Linked DNA regions of Homo sapiens: regions 1, 2 and 3 are each linked to region 4. The links come from fine-mapping of genetic effects on gene expression. A gene starts in region 4. Each other region holds a variant in brackets. All regions are shown on one strand. Distances are from middle to middle. Region 1 overlaps XG (Xg glycoprotein (Xg blood group)). Region 2 overlaps ARSD (arylsulfatase D). Region 3 has its middle 38 kb from the start of TRI-GAT1-1. Region 4 holds the start of ARSL (arylsulfatase L).

Region 1 (5,000 bases), 170 kb after region 4:
GTGGACGAATGCTATGAATCACAAGACCAGAGCCTTTTGAGGAGGAAGAACTATTGTAGAGCTTTCCAGGAAATGGAGTTGAAGCTATACACCCTGATGAAGGGATGTAGCGGTAAGTCTTTCATTCATGAATCCAGCTGTTTGCCTGTTGGGACTCAAGCATTAATGACTTCACTGACCTTCACCTAGGACTCATTGTGTGCCAGGCACAGCTTTCCAGACTAGGGAATGCAGCAGTGAATGAAAGGCAAAAATCCATGCCCATGTAGAGTTCTCATTCTAATTCACAGGAATCAACTAAACACAATTGCACGGTGTTGCATGTAAGAACATATCAAGCAGTATGGAGTACGGGAATGCAGAGGGAGGAACCACCTCCTGGGGGAACATAGTCTAGGATACAACGCTGTGGTTTTGGAGACTTGCAGGAGGTGGGTGAGTGGGCAAAAGTGTGTTCGTTTTTCTAGGGAAGAAACACAATTCTTCAGTTGCAAGACCCAAGGGAAAAGGCACTGGGACATACCCAAAGCTTGTTTCCTTGGATTTCACGGAGTGCCTTGAACCCTAGGAATATGACAACATCCAAGCAACGTCCTGAAACAATCACAATCAGGGGAACTCCCAATGGTTAAAGCAGGTGGAGAGAGGAAGACACCCAGTGTATCTTAGCTTCCTCAATCTGCACACATTTGCCCCACCAATGGAATCGCTGAGACTCTTCCAACTTTACAGACCAGCATCTCTTTCCTGAGTGTCTCACGTTCGTGAGACACAATTGCCAAGGCGGAGATGGGAAGTGCTGTAGGAACACAGGCAAAGTGGCCGCAGATAACTCTTGCAGAGGGAAGAATAAGTGAGTAGAACACAGACCAACAAAAAAAAAAACAAGAAAAAATTGCCTTCCTCCATCATAACTTGAAATGTCTTAGTGTGCATGGTATTTTTCAGTCAATGTCATCAAAAACATTTAAATTTATTTACTATCAACTAAATGTAATCCCCAGGTGCTGGTGGATAGTAGAACTGAACTCCTCGCAAAACAATGTCTGTGCATTTCAAAAGCAATTGGTCTTTCACCATGGAGATGAGAATTTTTAAGTCATTAAATAATACTTGTATCCAACCACCCCCCCGCCTTTTTTTGAGACAGAGTCTCACTCTATCACCTAGATAGATTGTGCATTGGCACAATCTTGGCTCAAGGCAACCTCCGCCTCCTGGGTTCAAGCGATTCTCCTGCCTCAGCCTCCCCAGTAGCTGGGATTACAGGCACGCGTCACTCTGCCCAGCTAATTTTGTATTTTTAGTAGAAACAGGGGTTCACCATGTTGGCCGCTGGTTTCAAACTCCTGACCTCAGGTGATCTGCCTGAGGAGACCTCGGCCTCCCAAAGTGCTGGGATTACAGGCGTGAAGCACTTCTTTTTTTTTTTTTTTTTCCTTTTGAGACAGGGGCTCGCTCTGTCTCCCAGGCTGGAGTGCTGTGGCGTGATCTCAACTCACAGCAGCCTCCGCTTTGCGGGTTCAAGCGATTCTCCTGCTTCATCCTCCTGAGTAGCTGGATTACAGGCATGTACCACCACGCCCGGCGAATTTTTGTATTTTTAGTAGAGACAGGGTTTCATCATATTGCTCAGGCTGGTGTCAAACTCCTGACCTCAAGTGATCCGCCCACCTCGGCTTCCCAAAGTGCTGGGATTACAGGCATGAGCCACTGTGCCTGGCCCCAAACACTTCTAAAATGGACTTTAATACTGATTATCAGGCTGGGCCACAATAGCTGGTGCCTGTAATCCCAGCATTTTGGGAGGCTGAGGCAGAGGATTGCTTGAGGCCGGGAGTTCAAGAATAGCCTGAACAACACAGCAAGATCCTGTCTCTGCAAAAAATTTGAAATATAGCCAATATAGGTGGTGAAATATAGGTGGTGCAATGTAGGTGGTACACATCTGTAGTCCTAACTACTTGAAAGGCTGAGGGAGGAAGATTGCTTGAGCCCAGGAGTTCAAGGCTGCAATTACATCACTTCACTCTGGCCAGGGCAACAGAGCGAGACCCTGTCTCCAAAATAAATAATAAAATAAAATAGTAAAATAACATAGAATCAAATAAAATAAAGTAAAATAACATAGAATCAAATAAAATGGTAAAATAAAGTAAAATAACATAGAATCAAATAAAATAGTAAAATAAAATAAAATAAAATAAAATAAAAATAAATAAATAAATACTCATTACCTCCACTGTTGCC[G/A]GAATTGCCAGGCTGGGGTTGAGGGCGTGGCTTTGGCCTTGGGTAGATATCTGTTGGAAAACAACAGTATGATTTCAGAAAAATAATGACATCTTTCAGGTAGATACCATCTATAAATAAGAATGCCAAAGTACAGAAAAGATGTTACTGCCCATTGCTTTTACGGAGCTTATTAATCATGTAGACAATATTCATAATACCACCTCAGAGCTTACAATGAAAAAACAAAAACTTACACCACTGGTGCTTTCGCAAGAAGTCCAGGGCTCTCTGAAATTAACAGGGCAGAAAGTGCGTTGTTGACCTTTCCCTGTTTAGGGCTACTACAGATGCCAGCACCATTTACAGAAGTCAGTCACTTCTATAAATGTTAGGATGAAACATCTGACCTTTTGATAGTGTGTTGTATTTCCATCTTGCTTGAGTTACACCGTTTCATTTGAATTTGTGTTGTTGTTGTTTTGAGACAGAGTCTTGCTCTGTTGCCCAGGCTGCAGTGCAGTGGTGCAATCATAGCTCCCCGCAGCCTCGAGTTCCTAGGCTCAAACAATCCTCCCACCTCAGCCACCCATGTAGCTCAGTCTACAGGTGCATACCACCATAGTTGGCTAATTTTTAAAATTTGTGTAGAGACAAGGTCTTGCTATGTTGCCCAGGTTGGTCTCAAATTCCTGTTCTTAAGCAATCGTCCTGTCTTGCCTTCCCAAAGAGCTGGAATCATCATAGGCATTAGCCACACTGAGCCTGGCTTCATTTGAATTTCTTAAAACTTTTTGCAATGACTTTTGCATGTTCCTCAAGTTTACCATGAGCTTTCTGCCCTAGGACTTTTTTTTTTAAGACGGAGTTTCGCTTTTGTCGCCCAGGCTGGAGTGCAGTGGTGTGATCTCAGCTCACGGCAACCTCTGCCTCCTGGGTTCAAACAATTCTCCTGCCTCAGCCTCCCGAGTAGCTGAGATTACAGGTGTGTGCCACCACGCCTGGCCAATTTTTGTATTTTTAGTAGAGATGGGATTTCACTATGTTGCCCAGGCTGGTCTCGAACTTCTGACCTCAGGTGATCTGCCCACCTTGGCCTCCCAAAGTGTTGGGATTACACGCATGAGCCACCGTGCCCAGCCCTGCCCCAGGACTTTTGCAGGTGGCATTCCTTCTGTCATGACCCCTCCTGTTCCCTGTCCATCACTTTACACTCTCCCTAAATATTTGAAGAATCCATTTGTCATCTGGAAAAGCATTAATTAGCTCGTCCCTCCTGTCTCAGCTTAAATGTCCTTTGACCCTATTCAAGAAGCCGAAATGAAATAATCAGTGCAAGCTCTTTGCACGACATGAGTCTGTATCTTCAGCACCTTTTTGTCGCTGGACTAGAAACTTTATTTTCTGTACCCATTCTATATTCCTGGTACCTGGCACTGCCAGTACCTGTCAAGTGCTTATCCACATTGGCTCAAGAGTGAAATTACTTTAATTCACAAAAAAGGCAAGGATGCTGTTCTCAAAGTCCTTCCTCAGGACAGACGTCTCAGAACACTGGAAATCTGGGCTGAGAATGACTGGTTTTTCACTTCTCAAAATAGTCTCTCTCTCTTTCCCTTTCTCTCTCTCTTGAGACAGGGTGTTGCTCTGTTGCCCAGGCTGGAGTGCAGTGGTGAATCATAGCTCACTGCAGCCTCCACCTCCTGGGCTCAAGTGATCCTCCTACCTCAGCCTCCTGAGTATAGCTAGGACTACAGGCATGGACCACCATGCCCTGCCTAGACTCTCTTTTTTTTTTTTTTTTTTTGAGAAGGAGTTTTGCTGTTGTTGCCCAGGCTGGAGTGCAGTGGCACAATCTCGGCTCCCTGCAACCTCCGCCTCCTGGGTTCAAGCGATTCTCTGGCCCCAGCCTCCCAAGTAGCTGGGATTACAGGTATACACCACCATGCCCAGCTAATTTTTGTATTTTTAGTAGAGACAGGGTTTCACCATGTTGGCCAGGCTGGTCTTGAAATCCTGACTTCAGGTGATCCACCCACGTCGGCCTCTGAAAGGGCTGGGATTACAGGCATGAGCCACCACGCCCAGCCTAGACTCTCTTTTGAGGTCTCTAAAATGATACAACTGTGGGGGATTATGGAAACTTGGGGGCCAAACAGAGGAGTGGGGACTGGACACAAGGGAGCTTTGGTTTCCAGGCCAGAAGGCACTGCCCGGAGCACGAGCTGCATATTCGTGGCTTGGTTCAGGAAGTCTCTGGGTACCTCACTGTAAGGTCAGTCCTCCCTCAAAACGCCTTCATCTGTGAGCTTCCCTCCTCCATTCACACACAGAACCTCCAACTGCATTGATTCCTGGGCTTACTCCTGAGGCCTCTCTCCTTGGCTTGTAGACACCATCTTCTCCCTGTGTCCTCACAGGGTCGTCCCTCTGTGTGTGTCTGTGTCCTCATCTCCTCTTCTTATGAGATGTCTTAGTCCATTTCAGGCTGCTATCACAGAATACCAAAGACTGGGTGGCTTATAAACAACAGACATTGATTCTCCCACAGTCCTGGAGGCTGGAAGTCTGAGATCCAGGTGTGGGCTGGGCTGATTCCTCCTGAGGCCTCTCTCCTGGGCTTGCAGATGCCATCTTCTCCCTGTGTCCTCACAGGATTGTCCCTCTGTGTGTGTCTGCGTCCTCATCTCCCCTTCTTATGAGGTGTCTTAGTCCATTTCAGGTTGCTGTCACAGAACACCATAGACTGGGTGGCTTATAAACAACAGACA
Region 2 (5,883 bases), 38 kb after region 4:
AGGGAGGGCGGAGGAAGGCTGGCCGGGACCCGGAGGGAGCGGAAACTGGGCCGGTCACGCCCTGCTGGGTCCTCCGCCTTCCACGCCCAGCTACACCGCTGCCCGGATTCGGCCTTCAAAGGCTCCCTAAGACCCGCCCCGAACCGCGCCCCCCGCTCTGCCCCACTAAGACGCGCCCCGTCCCGCCCCAAGGCTCCATCCCCCGAAGCGTAGCCTTGCCCGCCCCACTTCCTAAGAGGCACCCCGTCCCGCCCCCAACCCCCCAGCTCGATGCCTTCCAGCACGGCCGTGTTCCCCGGGTCCACTAAGACGCTCCCTGTCCCTCCCCAACGCCCCGTCCTCCCGAGCACAGCTGTGACGCCCTCCCGATTTCTAAGAAGGCCCCTTCCCGCCCCCCGCCTCTTCGGCCCCACCATGACATGCTCCATCCCGCCCCCCGGCCCTTTGCCTTCCCAGCACGGCTGTGCCCTCCCCCTCATCCCACTAAGACGCGCCCCGTCCTTCCCCCAGACCCCATCCTCCCAAGCACGGCTGTGACTCCCCCAACACGCTCGGTAAGACACGCCCCTTTCCCCCCCGTGGGCTTCATTGGGCGCCCTCCCCCCAGCACCGCCGTGCCTACCCCGGTCACCCCCCAAGACTTCTCTGTCCCGTCCCCATCTCCACCACAAGCGCGGCCGTTACTTCCCTCTGGCCATCCCCCGGCGCCTTGGCCTTGTGCCGCCTCCATGTCCCCACCCTCTAGCACCGCCATGCCCCGCTGCACTTCCTCAGATGCGCCGGGTCCTGCATTCCCAGCTTCATTTGCGCCCCAGTGCCACCGGTAGAGGGTCGTGACTGCAAGTTGTCCAGGTTCTTGGCGTTTTGAACAAAGAATTGGACAAAACGCCCAGCAAAGAAAGAATGAAGCAACAAAAGAAGGAAAGCAGGGATTTATTGAAAACAAAAGGACACGTCACAGTGTGGGAGCCGACCAAGCAGCGGCTCAAGGGCCCGGGTACATAATCTTCTTGGGTCCAAATACCCCCTAGAAGTTTCCCATTGGCCACTTCATGCTCACCTCATGTAACTGAAGTGGTGGCCCGCGATCAGTCTGATTGGTTGCAGGCAGCAGCCAACCAAAGGGTGAAGTTACAAAGGTCACACTCCTGTGCAAACATCTGATTGGTTGCAAAACCCAACTAATCAGAGACTAGGGTGAAGTCACAAAGTTGCACACGAAGACTAGACCCGAAATCAGTCCGATTGGTTGCAGACAGCCAGTCTACTATCTACCCAATAGAAAAGGTCAAAGGGAAGCCTTCGGTCCTTTTGTTACTTAGGCATGGAAAGTTAGGATTTTCCCGCCAGGCGAGGTGGCTCATGCCTGTAATCCCAGCACTTTGGGAGGCCGAGACGGGTGGATCACCTGAGGTCAGGAGTTTGAGACCAGCATGGCCAATATGGTGAAATCCCGTCTCTACTAAAAATACAAAAATTAGGCCGGGCCTCTACTAAAATTACAAAAAAATTAGCCGGGCGTGGTGGCAGGCACCTGTGATCCCAGCTACTCAGGAGGCTGAGACAGGAGAATCGCTTGAACCCTGGAGGTGGAGGTTGCAGTGAGCCCGGATCATGCCATTGAACTGCAGCCTGGGCGACAAGAGTGAAACTCCATCTCAAAAAATAATAATAAAAATTAAAATTAAAAAAAAAAGGAAAGTTAGGATTTTCCTTTCAATTTACTTCTAGGAAGTCGGCATGGAAAGCCTTAGGTTCCCTGCCTCCAGACCCTATTCTCCTGCCTCAGCAGCACTGCCGTGCCTCTCGCCACCCTCCAAGACACGCCCCGTCCTGTCCCCTTCCGCGGCCATTGCCCTGCTGGCCACACCGGATCCCTCCCCATGGCCTTATTCCTCCCCTGCCCCCCAGTAGAGCCGTGTCCCCTCACACACCCTGAGACACACCCCTCGTTCGCGTCCTCCCCGGAGAGCACAGCCACGATCCCCCAACACTAAGACACCACCTATCCACTGCAGTTCAAGGACTGCTTGAATCAATCCTCCCACCTCAGAATCAGGCAGAGGTTGCTGTAAGCCACCATCATGCCACTACAGCCTGGGCAGCACAGCAAGACCCCATCTCAAAAAAAAGAAAAAAAAGAATAATAAAGCAGATTGGTTGTTTCAAAGTTACTTTTCTTACAGGGTTAAAGCACGGGAGACTTTGTTAGCTCAGATGAACTACACATCTTCTTCTTGCTTACTCAAATCTTCTGTTTTTTGGAAAACTGACCTGTTTCCCTGTTCAGCTTGACGATGTGGCAGTTAACACAAGTGACTCCATTCCAGTTTGTTCTGACCTGTATGGTCTAGTGTGGCAGGCCAGGTCTCACTAATGCAGGCCTCCGTAACAACTGTTTCAGCACTGACTGAGTGTGAAGTTACATACTAAAAGCTGAAACAACCAGCGCCTTTATGCACAGGCTGGGATGTAACAAAAGCACACCAAGAGTTCTGCCCAGGCCTCTCCTGGGCCTTTGAAGCATGACAAGATAACGAAGGAATTCTTAACAGGACCCATTTAGGATTAAACAAGTTTTATTGTGGGTCTGAAGAAACTCCCCAGACCTCCACAAACAAGCTTTGTTGGGGACTAAAGGAACTCCCCAGAACTCTGTGATTTAGCAGGAGACAAGATAAGGGTAATCACCCCAGCACCTGGACCCATCTAGATTAAGTCAATTCACCGAGGCTCCAGAGGAAGGTCTTCAGGACTCAGATCTTAATTACAGATTAGAAGAAGTTAATCACTTATGTCTTTAGATAAATGCACACTTACACTTAGACATATAGCTTTGAAGGTATATAAGCTCTGGAAAGCTTTGTAATTTTGAGTTGGTTGGGAGAGAATTTCCAGGCCTTCCTCCTGTAACTGGTTACAGAATTAAAAACTCTCTTCTTTCCCAATTCATCTGCATCTCGCTATTGGGTCACAAGAAATAGCAGTCTGACCCTCGGTTTGGCCCAGGGACACCAGTGCAGGAATTCAGGCCAAGACAATAACCTCCCATAAAGCTGAACGTCTTAATTTAGTGGTAAGACCTTCGCCTTCCCAGC[G/A]AGCTGCCTTGAAATGCCTACTTCCCTTGCCAAATTGTAGATAGTCATTTCTGTGTTTCGCTTTTCTCTCCAGGGACTCTTTGCCGGTGCTACTGTTTTTATGCTTGCTTCTGAAGACGTGTGAACCTAAAACTGCAAATGCCTTTAAACCAAATATCCTACTGATCATGGCGGATGATCTAGGCACTGGGGATCTCGGTTGCTACGGGAACAATACACTGAGGTACAGTTGGTTGTTGCTATTGGTGATGATGTTATGTGAGTTTGACGGAATGGTGCATTTAAAATCTGCCTGGAGAAATTAGGAAACTCCTTAGGGCCTCAGAACTCAACAAAAAACTACCAACAGGTAAAAAGGCCCTTTTAAACCATGCGGAACTGCGGTGAGGGGGTGAATGTATTACTACCACAAAATGGGTAGCTTAAAACAACGGAAATTTGTTCTCCCAGGTCTGGAGACCAGAAATCTTAAATCCAGGTGTGGGCAGGGCCGGGCTCCCTCTGGGGGCCCTATGGGAGGATCCTTCCGGACTTTCCCAGCTCCTGGGGGCTCCAGGTGTCCCTGAGCTTGTGGCCACATCACTCCAGTCTCTGCCTCCGTCTCCACGGGGCCTTCTCCTCTGCGTCTGTGTCCTAATCTCCTCATCCTATAAGGACACCGGCCATTGCAGCAAGGCCTGCCCGCTGTAAAGATCTCATCTTCTGTTGATGACGTTTGCAAACAACGTCTGTTGTGGGCCAAATTCTGGCCTCCTCCAAATTTGTAGGTTGAAGCCCTAACCGCCGGTACTTCAGGGTGTGACCGTTTTCAGAGATGGGGTCTTTGAAGAGGTAATTAAGTTAAACTGAGGTCCTTAGGGTGAGCCCTAATCTGATATGGATTACTAAAAGAGGAGATTAAGACACCAACAGAGCTCCCTGAGAGGCTGTAGGGGAGGACCCTTCCTGCCTCTCCCAGCTCCTGGGGGCTCCAGGCATCTCTGGCTTTGTGGCCACATCACTCCAGTTTGTGCCTCCGTCCCCATGCGGCCTTCTCCCCTGTGTCTGTGTCTCCTCCTCTGTCTCTCAGAAGGACACTGGCCATTGCATCTGGGGCCCTCTCTAAACCAGGATGATCTCATCTCGGGATACCTAATAACAACTCCAAAGACAGTTTTTCTAAGCAAGGTCTCACACACAGGTTTGGGGGGTCAGCACGTGGACAGATCGGTTCGCAGACCCCCATTCAGCCCACTGCAGTGGCATGTGCAAACACAGAGTAGTAGCCTCTATGCCAACCTTACCAGCAGAGCGCTTGAGTGGTGCTCACGTGCTTTCTGCAACAGGAGAAAAGGTGAGAAAGCTCCTTATTCCATTTGGTGGGCTTTTCTCCTAGAAGGACCGCCCCAGAATGCAGGCTGCATCTGCTTTTCAATAGCTGCCAACCTCAGGAGCGGTCCCCGCAGAGCAGGGCCTCCCTTCTTTGCAGTGAACATTGCAGCACCTGCAGCAGTCTGCCCTGTGTGGGCCGGGCACGGTGGCTCCCGCCTGTCATCCCAGCATTTTGGGAGGCCAAGGAAGGTGGATCACTTGAGCCCAGGAGTTTGAGACCAGCTTGGGCAACATGGCAAAACCCTGTCTCTATGAAACATACAAAAAATTAGCCAGGTGTGGTGGCGCATGCCTGTAGTCCCAGCTACTCAGGAAGCTGAGAGTGGAGGATGGCTTGAGCCCGGGAGGTGGAGGTTATGGTGAGCTGAGGTTGCGCCACTGCATTCTAGCCTGGGCCACAGAGCAAGACCCTGTCTCTAAGTCAATCAATCAATCAATCTGCCCCCTGTCCAGGGATCCCCTTTCGAACACCCTGAGCAGGCCTGGTTGTAATTCACAGAACATGCGGTTCATCTGTTTACAGTGTACAGTTCAGGGACTTTTATTCTATTCATGGAGCTGTGCATCTGTCACCACAAACCATGTTAGAGCATTTGCATACCCCCAAAGAAACTCTGCATCCCCTTAGCCATCACCTCCAGCGAGGAGCGAATCTGTGTCCCCTAAACGCCTACGTCGAAGTCCTGACCCCCAGGACCTCAGACTGTGACTCTATTTGGAGACTGAGTCTTTAGAGACGTGATTCAGGTAAAATGAGGTCACTAGGGTGGGCCCTGATCCAATAGGACTGGGGTCCTTATAAGAAGAGGAGATGAGGACACAGACACACACAGAGCAATGACCACCTGAGGACACAGGGAGAAGATGGTGTCTACGAGCCCAGGGTGGTGGCCTCAGGAGGAACCAGCCCTGCCCATGCTTGATCTCAGACTTCCAGCTCCCAGAAATGTGAGAGAATAAATGTCTACTGGGTTTGTTTTTCTGTTTTATTTTGTTTTGTTTTTTGAGACAGGGTCTCACTCTGTTGCCCAGGCTGGAATGCAGTGGCATGATCACAGCTCACTGCAACCTCCATCTCCTAGGCTCTCACCTCAGCCTCCTGAGTAGCTGAGACTACAGGCACATGCCACCACGCCCAGCTAATTTTTGTATTTTTTGTAGAGACAGGTTTTCACTATGTTGCCAAGGCTTGTCTCGAACTCCTGGCCTCAAGTGATCCACCCACCTTAGCCCCCCAAAGTGCTGGGATGACAGGCGTGAACCACCGTGCCCAACCAATATCTGGTGTTGAAGCGGCCAGGTGTGTAGGACTTTGTTATGGCAGCCCCAGCTAACACTCCTCCAACTCTCTCAGCACCCTAACCCTCAGCCTCTGGCAGCCACTAATATACTTTCCATCTCTATAGATTCCCCT
Region 3 (5,883 bases), 840 kb before region 4:
GATCCATCCACCTCGGCCTCCCAAAGTGCTGGGATTACAGGTGTGAGACACTGCACCCAGCCCCAGATAATTTTTCTTATTTATTTATTTACTTGAGACAGAGTCTCCTTCTGTCGCTCAGGCTGGAATGTGGAGTGCAGTGGCGCGATCTCGGCTCACTGCAACCTTCACCTCCTGGGTTGAAGCGATTCTCCCACTTCAGCCTTCTGAGTAGCTGGGATTACAGGCGTGTACCACCACACCCGGCTACTTTTAGTATTTTTAGTAGAGATGGGGTTTCACCATGTTGTCCAGGCTGGTCTCGAACTCCTGACCTCAGGTGATCTGCCCACTTCGGTCTCCCAAAGTGCTGGGATTACAGGCGTAAGCCACTGCGCCCAGCCCCAGCTAATTTTTTTATTTTTTGTAGAGACGGGGTCTCGCTCTGTTGCCCAGGATGGTCTCAAACTCCTGGGCTAAAGAAATCCTCCCACTTCAGCTTCCCAAAGTGCTGGAATTATGGGTGTGAGCCACTGCGCCCAGCAGGAAGCACTTCTTGGGTGTCAAATGTGTTTACCCCAAGTGACTTTCCTGAGGCTGCCGTAATACAGTACCACAACCTGAGTAGCTTAAAACAACCGGAATTGATTGTCTCCTGGTCCTGGAGGCCAGGAGTCTGAAATCAAGGAATGTCGGGGCTGCGCTCCCTCCGAAGGCTCTAGGGGAGGCTCTAGGGGAGGCTCTGGGGGAGGCTCTAGGGGAGGCTGTACAGGAGTCTCTGGGGGAGGCTCTGGGGGAGGCTCTAGGGGAGGCTCTAGGGGAGGCTTTGGGGGAAGCTCTAGGGGAGGGTCTGGGGGAAGCTCTAGGGGAGGCTCTGGGGGAGGCTCTAGGGGAGGCTCTAGGGGAGGCTCTGGGGGAAACTCTAGGGGAGGCTCTGGGGGAGGCTCTAGGGGAGGCTCTGGGGGAGGCTCTGGGGGAGGCTCTAGGGGAGGCTCCAGGGGAGGTTCCTTCCTGCCTCTCCCAGCTCCTGGGGACTCCAGGCATCCCTGGGCTTATGACCGCATCGCTCCAGTCTCTGCCTCCATCTGTACGTGGCCTTCTCCTCTGTGTCTGTGTCTCCTCTTTCATCTGTTAGAAGGACACCTGTCATTGGATGCAGGACTCTCCCTAACCCAGGATAAGCTCCTTTTGGAATCCTTAACGAATAGTATCTGTAAAGACTCTATTTCCAAATCAGATCCCATTCACAGGTTCTGTGAATTTAAAGGGGTTAGGATCCTCAGGTGGAGGATCCTTCCTGCCTCTCCAGCTCCTGGGGGCTCCCGGTGTCCCTGGGCTTGCTGCCACATCACTCCAGTCCCTGCCTTCTTATGTGGCCTCCTTCTCTGTGCCTGTCTCCTCTTCTGTCTCTTAAAAGGATACTTGTCAGGGGACTCAGGGCCCACCCTAATCCAGGATGAGCTCATCTTGAGATCCTTAACCTACATCTGCATCACTTACTTCACACACATCCTTCAGTACATCTGTGAAGACCGGATTTCCAAATAAGGCCCCATTCACAGGTACTGGGGGTTCAGCTTTCAACATATGTTAGTTGGGCATATGATTCAACCCTCAACAAAGGAATGTGAATCCATGGTAAACTCTTCTGTGCTTTCAAACATTTATCTAGCCCCTTCACTATACAGGCTTTCTCTTTCTGCAAATTTATTTTTACAAATAATAGCCATAGCTGTGATTGTTGAAGCACTCATGATGTGCCATCCACTTCTTAACTTCTTTGCAAACTACAATCATATAATTGCCACCCAAATCCTACCAGGAAAGTACTACTGTATTTTATAAATGTGGAAACAAAAGTTTGGAGACATTAAGACAAGTCTAATATTTCACAGCTAAAACATGGTGGGTTTCCACTCCGAAGTATATCTCCAAGAGAAATGAAAACATGTGCTCACGTCTGCTCACGTAAACTCTCAAACACACATTCACAGCAGCATTATTCATGGTAGCCTAAAGGTGGTAACAACCTCAAATGGCCTGTCAGCAAATGAATGTGTAAACTAAATGTGGTCCATCCATATCATGGAATATTCTTCAGCCCTAAAAAGGACTGAAGCTCTGACACAGGCCACCACATGAGTGAACCTTGAAGGCAATTTGCTAAGTGATGGAAGCCAGTCATAAAACGCTGTGTTCTGTATGATCCCATGTAAAGGATAATTCAAAACAAGGAAGTCTATAAAGATGGAAAGTAGATTTGTGGTTGCTTAGGGATGGGGGCAGGGGGTGTTAAGGTGGTTATAGCTAAAGGGTACAAAGTGTCTTACCAAAGAAATCAAATGCTCGGCTGGGAGCGGTGGCTCACGCCTGTAATCCCAGCACTTCGGGAGGCCTAGGCAGGTGATCACCTGAGATCGGGAGTTCGAGACCAGCCTGGGCAACATGGTGAAATACTGTCTCTACTAAAAATACAAAAATTAGCTGGGTGTGGTGACGCGTGCCTTAATCTCAGCTACCCAGGAGACTGAGGCAGGAGAATCGCTGGAACCCTGGAGGCAGAGACTGCAGTGAGCTGATATCACGCCACTGCGGTCCAGCCTGGCAACAGAGCGAGACTCTGTCTCAAAAAAAAAAAAAAAAAAAAAAAAAAATCAAATGCTCTAAAACTGATAGTGGTGATGGTTGCACAACTCTGAATATACTACGAAACACTGAATTGCATGCATTAAGTGGGTAAATGATATCATATGTAAGCTATATCTCAATAAAGTTGTTAAAAAAATAGTTTCTACCCAAAGGAAAATAAATCATTCTACCAAAAACACACACGGACACATATGTTCATCACAGCACTATTCACAATAGCAAAGACATGGAATCAATCCAGGTGCCCATCCATGGCAGACTGGATAAAGAAAATATGGTACCTCTACACCAAGGAATACTACACAGCCATAAAAAGAACAAAATCATGTCCTTTGCAGTAACATGGATGGAGCTGGAGGCCATCATCCTAAGGAAATTAAGGCAGGAACAGAAAGTCAAATAGCACATCTTCTCATTTACAAGTGGGAGCTAAACATTGAGTACCCATGGACATAAAGATGGGAACAATAGACTCTGGGGACTGCTAGACGGGAGAGGAAGGAAGGGGGACAGCGGATGGAAAGGTACTTACCAGGTACTAGGCTCACTACCTGGGTGACAGGTCCATTAGGAGCCCAAACCTCAGCATCATGCAATATACCCAGGTCAGAAACCTGCACATGTA[G/C]CCCTGAGTCTAAAATAAACATGTAAAAAATTAAAAATTAAATAATTTTAATTTAACTTAAATTTTTAAAAAATTGGCCAGGCACAGTGGCTCATGCCTGTAATTCCAGCACTCTGGGAGGCCGAGGTGGGCAGATCACTTGAAGCCAGGAGTTCGAGACCAACCTGGCTAACATGGTAAAACCCTGTCTCTATGAAAAATACAAAAATTAGCCTAACTTGGTGGTACATGCCTATAATCCCAGCTACTCAGGTGGCTGAACGAGGAGAATCTCTTGACCCCGAGAAGTGGAGGTTGCAGTGAGCCAAGATTGCAGCACTGTACTCCAGCCTGGGCAACAGAGTGAGACTCTATCTCAAAAAGTAAAAATAAAAATAAAAAATTAGCTGGACATGGTGGTGTGTGCTTTTCATCCCAGCTACTTGAGACCGTGCCACTGCACTCCAGCCTGGGTGACACAGAGAGACCCTGTCATAAATAAATAAATAAATAAATAAACAAATAAATAAATAAATAAAATTAGAAAGACCCATAAGAGCATTACTCCACCAAAAACCAAAAATACTTCAAATGAAAAATAGCATGTAATTTTACCTAATGTGGAAAAGACAATGATTTGAAATGCATCGAAGTTTTGTTTTAATAAAATAATGATGAAGTAGTGGGTTGAAGATTCAAGGCCAGACTCACACCTGCGTACCTTCTCATCCTCTGAACACAATAAGGACACATTCTCTCCGTTGTATAGCGCCTTTTATAATCCATTGCACACCAAAAACTTTATCATCATTTCCCTGTTGCAGTTTCAATTTCTTCCCAGGTACTTTTCACAGCCCGTCTGTATCTTCTCTTCGTTAAACTTCTTCTTCCTATCTATAGATCTGTTTCACACAGAACTAACATCTGTGACCCAAATGGCACACTGCTATTTATTTAAATCTAAGATCGCAGATCTGGAAGAAATCATGAATAATCTAGTCCAGGTGTCCTGAGTCGTAGGTTAAAAAACATCTCAAGTGGAATCAACCCAAATGACCATCAGTGGATGAAGAAAAACACAACGTGGTCCATCCACACAAGGGAACATGATGCAACCCTAGAGAGGAATGCGGCTCGGAAACAGGTTACAGTGTGGGTGCACCTGAATAACAGCACACTCAGCGAAACGAGTCAGACACAAAAGACCACGTGCTATATGATGCCATTTATATAAAGTGTCCAAAATAGGCAAATCCACAGAGACGGAAAATACATGGCCATTAGAGGCTGGGGAGGCGGAATGGGAAGTGACTGCTAGTGGGTACAGGGTCCCGTTTTGGAAATATGAAAATGTTCTGGAACTAGATAGAGACGTGGTTGTGAACATACTAAATCTCACTGAGCTGTACACTTTAAAATGGTGAATTTTGCCAGGTGCAGCGGCTCTCGCCTGTAATCCCAGCACCTTGGGAGTCCAAGGTGGGTGGATCACCTGAGGTCAGGAGTTCGAGACCAGCTTGACCAACGTGGTGAAACCCCGTCTCTACTGAAAATACAAAAACTAGCCGGACATGGTGGTGGGCGCCTGTAATTCCAGGTACTTGGGAAGCTGAGGCAGGAGAATTGCTTGAACCCAGGAGGCAGAGGTTGCAGTGAGCTGAGATTGCACCACTGCACTCCAGTCTGGGCAACAGAGTGAGACTCTGTCTCAAAAATAAATAAATAATAAAAATAACAAAATGTTGAGTTTTATGTTCTATAAATTTCCTCTCCATAGAGAAAAAATTAGTCTTCTCCTAAGTCTCAAAACCTACGGTGGGCATCACTTCAGTTACCCCAAAAGTTAAGAGCCAGGGCCAGGCACAGTGGCTCATGCATGTAATCCCAGCATTTTGGGAGGCCAAGGTAAAAGGATCACTAGAGCCCAGGGGCTCAAGACAAGTGGGGCAACACAGCACGACCCCAACCTTACAAAAAATAAAAAACTAAGTGGGTATGGTGGAGCACACCTGTGGTCCCAGGAACTCAGGAGGCTAAGCTGGGAGGATCGCTTCAGCCCAGGCAGCCAAGGCTGCAGTGAACCACGATTGCACAACTGCACTCCAGCCTGGGCAACAGAGCAAGACCTCATCTCCAAAAAAAGTTTAATTTAAAAAGAAAGTTAAGAGCAGAGACAATCCTGTCCTCCCCATCCCCACATTGTCCAACACTCAACAGACAAACAGATACCAGTCTTCCTTTATATTTTTTTCTTTTTTGAGACAGAGTCTCACTCTGTTTCCCAGTCTGGAGTGCAGTGGTGCAATCTCAGCTCACTGCAACCGCCGCCTCCTGGGTTCAAGCAATTCTCCTGCTTCAGCCTCCCAAGTAGATGGGATTACAGGCATGTGCCACCACACCCGGCTAATTTTTGTATTTTTAGTAGAGATGGGGTTTCACCATGTTGGCCAGGCTGGTCTCAAGCTCCTGACCTCAAGTGATGCGCCCACCTTGGCCTCTCAAAGTGCTGGGATGACAGGCCTGAGCCACCGCGCCCAGCCCTTCCTTTATATTTTCGCATGGCTTCATCTTAAAAGATTTATCTGTGCACCTCTTTGGGGAAATTTTTGCAAACAAATATTTCTGTCTGGCCATTGGGAATTTGAAAGATG
Region 4 (5,883 bases):
ATATGTATATATGTACTATACATACACACATAAACATTTTTACTTTAAAAAGTACATATATTAACGTTACATGTATATACGTACATGTTTTATAGGTATATATGTTATGTATACATATATGTATGTATATATACATGCATGTACATGTATACATTATATACATATAAGCATACATATATGAACACATAAACATGTATGTAGATGTCTATAGGTACATGTTTATATGTTATATGTTTATATTTATACGTGCATATTATAACATGTATTTATATGTAGATGTGTACGTATATGTACATGTTTTATGTATCTATACATATATGTACATATATATTTTAAAGTATATATTATTTTTGTAAAGAAAAGCATGCATATTTTAATAAAGAAAAATTATGCTTTATTATATATTTATATATTATATTTATATATTTTATTGTTTTGTTTTTTTTTTCTAGAGATAGGCTCTCACTTTGTTGCTCAGACTTAACTTGAACTCCTGGGCTCAAGCAATCCTCCCACCTCGGCCTCCCTAAGTGCTGGGATTATAGGCGTGAGCCACCACACCCAGCCTTATTTACATATTTTATGTGATACATTTATACTATGTATGATGTACAAAAGTTATACTATATTATATATAATAATTATGAATATATAAATTAAAATATAGGTGAAAATATTCCTTTAGGCCCCCTACGAGGAAATGACTTAAGATTTGTTGCCAAAAATCACAAAGTGAAAGCAATTACCATTAGGGCACACACCTGTGGCAGGAAAAGAAAACATTTCTGACACCCCTCCTAATACTCGTTTTGAGACATGCCACCAAAACCGTCCACTTGTAAAAATGAGTCAGGCTGGAGTGTGCCAGCGTGTCAGCTCCTCATCCCAGAAGTAGGGTGGTTTCCACCCCCACATAAGGAGGAAGTGAGATCAGGTAGGCTATGTGACTTCTCACAGACCCAGCATGTGGCTGCATATGAAGTTGCGAAGAGACAGCAGGTGGAACTCTATGAAACCCCGTCCTTGTAGGTCAAGGATGGTTGAATAATAGGGACCATTGCGTAGGGTTCCATTCTACAGAGTAACTTCCCAGCAATGATCATGCAGTGCCTCAGAAACTGCTTCCTGCCCTCTTGGTCTTGTCTTGTCTTTTCTTTTTTGAGACGGAGTCTCACTCTGCCGCCCAGGCTGGAGTGCAGCGGCACAGTCTCGGCTCACTGCAAGCTCCGTCTCCCGGGTTCAAGCGATTCTCCTATCTCAGCCTCCCAAGTAGCTGGGATTACAGGTGCACGCCACCACATCCAGCTAATTTTTGTATTTTTAGTACAGACGGGGTTTTGCCATGTTGGCCAGGCTAGTCTCAAACACCTGACCTCAGGTGATCAGCCCACCTCAGCCTCCCAAAGCGCTGGGATTACAGGCGTGAGCCACCGTGCCCAGCCCGTCTTTTCTATGTTTTTAAACCAAGCATTGCTTGAAAATAATCCTTTTTTTACTTTTTTTTTTGCTTATTTTTTTTCTTTTTATCTTATGTTTATTATTATTATTACTATAATTTTTGAGACAGAGTCTCTCTCCGTTGCTGAGGCTGGAGTACAATGCTGCGATCTTGCCTCACTGTAACCTCCGACTCCGGGGTTCAAGCAATTTTCTTGCCTCAGCCTCCCGAGTAGCTGGGATTACAGGCATGTGACACCATGCCTGGCTAATTTTTCTATTTTTAGCAGAGACAGGGTTTCACCATGTTGGCCAGGCTAGTCTCGAGCTCTTGGGTTCAAGTGATCGGCCCACCTCGTCCTCCCAAAGTGCTGGAATTACAGGCATGAGCCACTGCGCCTGGCCTTTTTACTTCTTTTGTTTGTTTGTTTATTTACTTTAAGAAATGTTTTCTTTTTTATTTTTATCTTATCTTTATTATTTCTTATTTACTTCATTTACCACTCAACAAATAACTTCTTTAAAACATTTTTTTTTGAGGCAGGGTCTTGCTCTGTCACTCAGGCTGGAGTGAAACTGCAGCTTCAACCTCCCAGGCTCAAACAATCTTTCCACCTCAGCCTCCTGAGTAGCTGGCAGTAGAGACACATGCCACCATGCCTGGCTAATTGTTTTATTATTTATAGAGACAGGGTCTTGCTATGATGCCCGGGCTGGTCTCGAAGTCCTGGGCTCAAGCGATCTTCCTGCCTCAACCTCCCCAAGTGCTAGGATTATGGGCATAAGCCACACTGCCCAGCCTAATATTTTTTATTTTTGAAGAGACAGCATCTCACTTTGCTGCCCAGGCTGCTCTGAAACTCCTGGCCTCAAGCAATCTTCCTGCCTCGTCCTCCCAAAGCGCTGGGATTACAGGCATGAGCCACCATGCCAGGTTGGATATGATCATATTATAGCCAGCACCCTGTGTAACAGCACAGGCAATCACTTAAAAACCTAAGGACACTGGCAGAATACGGTGACTCACATCTGTAATCCCAGCACTTCGGGAGGCCAAGGAGGGCAGATCACTGGAGCTCAGGACTTTGAGACCAGCCTAGGCCACATGGCAAAACCCCGTCTCTACAAAAAATAAAACAAAATAAAAACCTAAGGAAACTGACCACTGGTTTGGTAGACGTGGGCGTGGCTTTGAGATTCCCCCATGCTGCGATGTGGGGGGAGTCTGCTCTGTCTGTCCTAACTCTCTCTGATCTTCTGACTTGGGAAAAACAAACTCGAAGTTAATCATTCCCAGCTCAAAGCCTTGTGCAAGTGCTCTCTGCCTTCACGCTTGCTTCCTTTGGGAGAGAACCTTCCTCTTCTTGATCGGGGATTCAGGAAGGAGCCCAGGAGCAGAGGTGAGTCCTGTGAATGTTCATTTGTGCTGGATTTGGGCTCCGTGACCAGGCATGAATAGCGTGGTGAACAAAGAGCTCCCCGTTCCCTTTTCTGTCTCTGAATAATTGCCCAGTTTGTTTTGATAAAGCAGAAACGTACCCGTGACTTACAGGCCTAGGAATGCAGCTCTTTCCTGGAGAAGGGGGATCTGTTTTCTAATCTGCAGGAGAGGCCTTGGGCAGGCCCCATGCTCTGGGTCACCTCAATGTCACAGTTTCCAAAATTAAACTCATTCAAGGCTGTTATCACCATCTCTTTATTTATTTAACGTTTTTCTCCAAGAAAAAATATTCATATTTTTACTTATAAATACATAACATTGCGGGAGAAAGAAAAATTAGGTCGGGCACGGTGGCTCACGTCTGTAATCCCAGCACTTTGGGAGGTCGAGGCGGGTGGATTGCTTGAGCCCAGGAGTTTGAGACCAGCCTGAGCAAAAGAGGAAACCCCACCTCTACTTAAAAAAAAAAAAATCAATAGCCAGGCATAGTGGCATGTGCCTGTAGTTTCAGCTACTTGGGAGGCTGAGGTAGGAGGATCGCTTGAGCCCAAGAATTTGAGGCTGCAGTGAACTATGGTCGCACCATTGCTCTCCAGCCTGGGTGAAACAGCCAGACCCTATCTCAAAAAAAAAAAAAAAAAAAAAAAAAGGAAAAGAAAAGAAAAATTAGAAAAAGAGCACTTTTCCTAAATCTCCACACCCAGAGATAAACCACTGCTGGGCAGGATTGCTGCAAAAACCATCTTCCCCTAGTTTGTGGTGGTTTGGGGTTTTCTCATTACATTTGTACAGTATTTTGCTTTTATTCCGTTTTCTGACCATTGGCAGCATGTCATTGTAGGTCAGAAAGCAATGCTGAGGGTATTAAAATGCTCATTTTGGTTTTCTCTCCATGTACAATTTTAAATCAATCTCTTTCCCGGTGAAGATGCTATTAGGTTGGTGAAACGTAATTGCGTCTTTTGCTATTACTTTTAGAATATGAGAATTGTGTGTGCTCTCTAGGGTAAAACAAACGAACAAATAAACAAAAAAACCTCACGAGCACGGCGTACACCTTATCCCTTCCTTCTGTGTTCTAAACAAAGCACAAATGATATCTAAGGTCTTTTTCTCTTCGACAGACAGAAAATTATTGGAGATGTAGCAATTCAGTGTTAGACATCCATCAATAATGTAAGAAGTGCATTGATTCGGTCTGGAAAGGCCGGAAAACTTGAAGCAAAGGCAGGAAGACTGTAAGCAGGGAGGGGGCTTCCAGGTCACAGATAGGTGAGAGAGGAACAGTTGCCTTCTTTTGAGTTTCTGATGAGCCTTTCCAAAGGAGGCAATCAGATACGCATCTATCTCAGTGAGCAAAGGGGGGACTTTGACTAGAATGGGAGGCAGAGGCCCTAAGCAGTTCCCCGCTTGACTTTTCCCTTTAGCTTATTGACTTGCGGGCCTTGAGATTTATTTTCCTTTCACAAAGCTCATTGTCTTTCTCAGAAGACTGGTTTTGTGCCTGAATCCTGCTAGGAGCAAACACCCCTCCCAGCATCCCCGAAAAGGCGTTGAGGGGAAATCCCTCAACCAATCGCTTCTCTCCCACTCACACCCTGGGGTTTCGCAGCCCTGCGGACCTTGCCCACCCCTCCTCTCTGCCCTCCCCGCTCCCACACCAGCTGTGTCTATCCTTGGTCAGGTTTCACCTGGACAGACACCACGGCCACTTCTAGGCTCTCAGTGCCTGCTGGCTCCAGTGTGTCCTCACTCACTGGCCGCTCGGCCCTTCTAAAAGTGGCCAGGTCACTCCCCTGGTTACTCAGAGGCAGAAACCCAACACATCTGCATGCTCCTGTCTCTTTATCTTCTATGCATGCCCATGTCCTGTCAACGAAAAGAAGCGAACTCTGTAGAATATTTGAAGAGATTTATTCTGAGCCAAATAAGAGTGACCATGGCCCATGACACAGCCCTCAGGAGGACCCAAGAACGTGTGCCCAAGGTGGTCAGGGTGCAGCTTGTTTTATACATTTTAGGGAGGCATGAGGTGTCAATCAAATACATTTAAGATACACATTGGTTTGGTCCAGAAAGGTGGAACAACTCAAAGTCAGGGGGCTTCCAGCTTATACATAGATTTAAACATTTCCTGGTTGACAATTGGTTGAGTTCATCTAAAGACCTGGGATCCTAGGAGGCTGAGGCAGGAGAATCACTTGAACCCGGGAGGCGGAGCTTGCAGTGAGCCAAGATCGCGCCATTGCACTCCAGCCTGGGCAACAGAGCAAGACTCCGTCTCAAAAAAATAAAAAAGAAAGATTAAAAAAAAAAAAAAAAAACCCTGGGATCCCTAGAAAAGAAATCTTCAGGTTAAGAGAAAAGATTGTGGAGACCAAGGTTATTTTGAAGTCTTGTAGCGGCTGCCCTTAGAGACAATAGATGACAATTGTTTCCTATTCAGACTTTTAAAAGGTGCTAGAGTCTTAGTCAATCTTTTCAGGATTGGAAGGGTCCGGTAGAAAAAGATGTGAATATCTATGTGAATAGAGATTCTTTACATCTTTACAGATGCAAATTTTTCCCCACAAAGGACAGCTTTGCAGGGCCATTTCAAGATATGGCAAAGAAACATGTTTTTGGGTAAAATATTTTGATTTTCTTATTGGTCTCATGTTATGCCAGAGTCAGATTGGAAAGTAAGTCACAATATATAGTTAAATGAAACCCTTCTGATGAGAATTTTTGGTTTGTAGGGCATGACTCTCCAGACCCCTTAGATAGGAATTTGGGCAAGATAAAAAGAAAAATCAGAGCTTCGTCCTCAGTCCCATGCACAAGCCACATGGGGTCAGACCACTGCAGTACCCTGAAGGTGACCTCTTGCTGCCTGCAACTCTAATTGTTATCTTCCATCTCATTCCTTTCCTGCTCTACACCCTGGGCTCTCCCTCACTTCTCGGCGAGACTGAGGGGCCGCCCCTCTGTGCTTTGGGGGTCGCCCGTTTCCCTCTGTGGACAGA

What was found. PIP is the estimated chance that this variant, and not a neighbour inherited with it, causes the effect.
Region 1: its variant is fine-mapped to the expression of ARSL in lung (GTEx, PIP above 0.99).
Region 2: its variant is fine-mapped to the expression of ARSL in transverse colon (GTEx, PIP above 0.99).
Region 3: its variant is fine-mapped to the expression of ARSL in stomach (GTEx, PIP above 0.99).

The regions. Positions count from the first base shown.
Region 1 is chrX:2,786,944-2,791,943 of GRCh38, reverse strand. It overlaps XG (Xg glycoprotein (Xg blood group)), which reads right to left. Exons shown (of 11, transcript NM_001141919.2): 5 at 2,238-2,300. Among named protein-coding and RNA genes, the nearest start is that of XG, 37 kb to the right of the region's middle. The variant G/A (reference allele first, on the strand shown) is at 2,251.
Region 2 is chrX:2,923,054-2,928,936 of GRCh38, reverse strand. It overlaps ARSD (arylsulfatase D), which reads left to right. Exons shown (of 10, transcript NM_001669.4): 2 at 3,172-3,321. Among named protein-coding and RNA genes, the nearest start is that of ARSD, 3.3 kb to the left of the region's middle. RefSeq lists a silencer at 1-110 and enhancers at 4,082-4,591, 4,592-5,102. The variant G/A (reference allele first, on the strand shown) is at 3,099.
Region 3 is chrX:3,797,254-3,803,136 of GRCh38, reverse strand. No RefSeq gene overlaps it. Among named protein-coding and RNA genes, the nearest start is that of TRI-GAT1-1, 38 kb to the left of the region's middle. The variant G/C (reference allele first, on the strand shown) is at 3,254.
Region 4 is chrX:2,961,178-2,967,060 of GRCh38, reverse strand. It overlaps ARSL (arylsulfatase L), which reads left to right and starts at 2,720. Exons shown (of 11, transcript NM_000047.3): 1 at 2,720-2,837. RefSeq lists enhancers at 1,022-1,081, 2,412-3,235, 4,886-5,711, 5,712-5,883.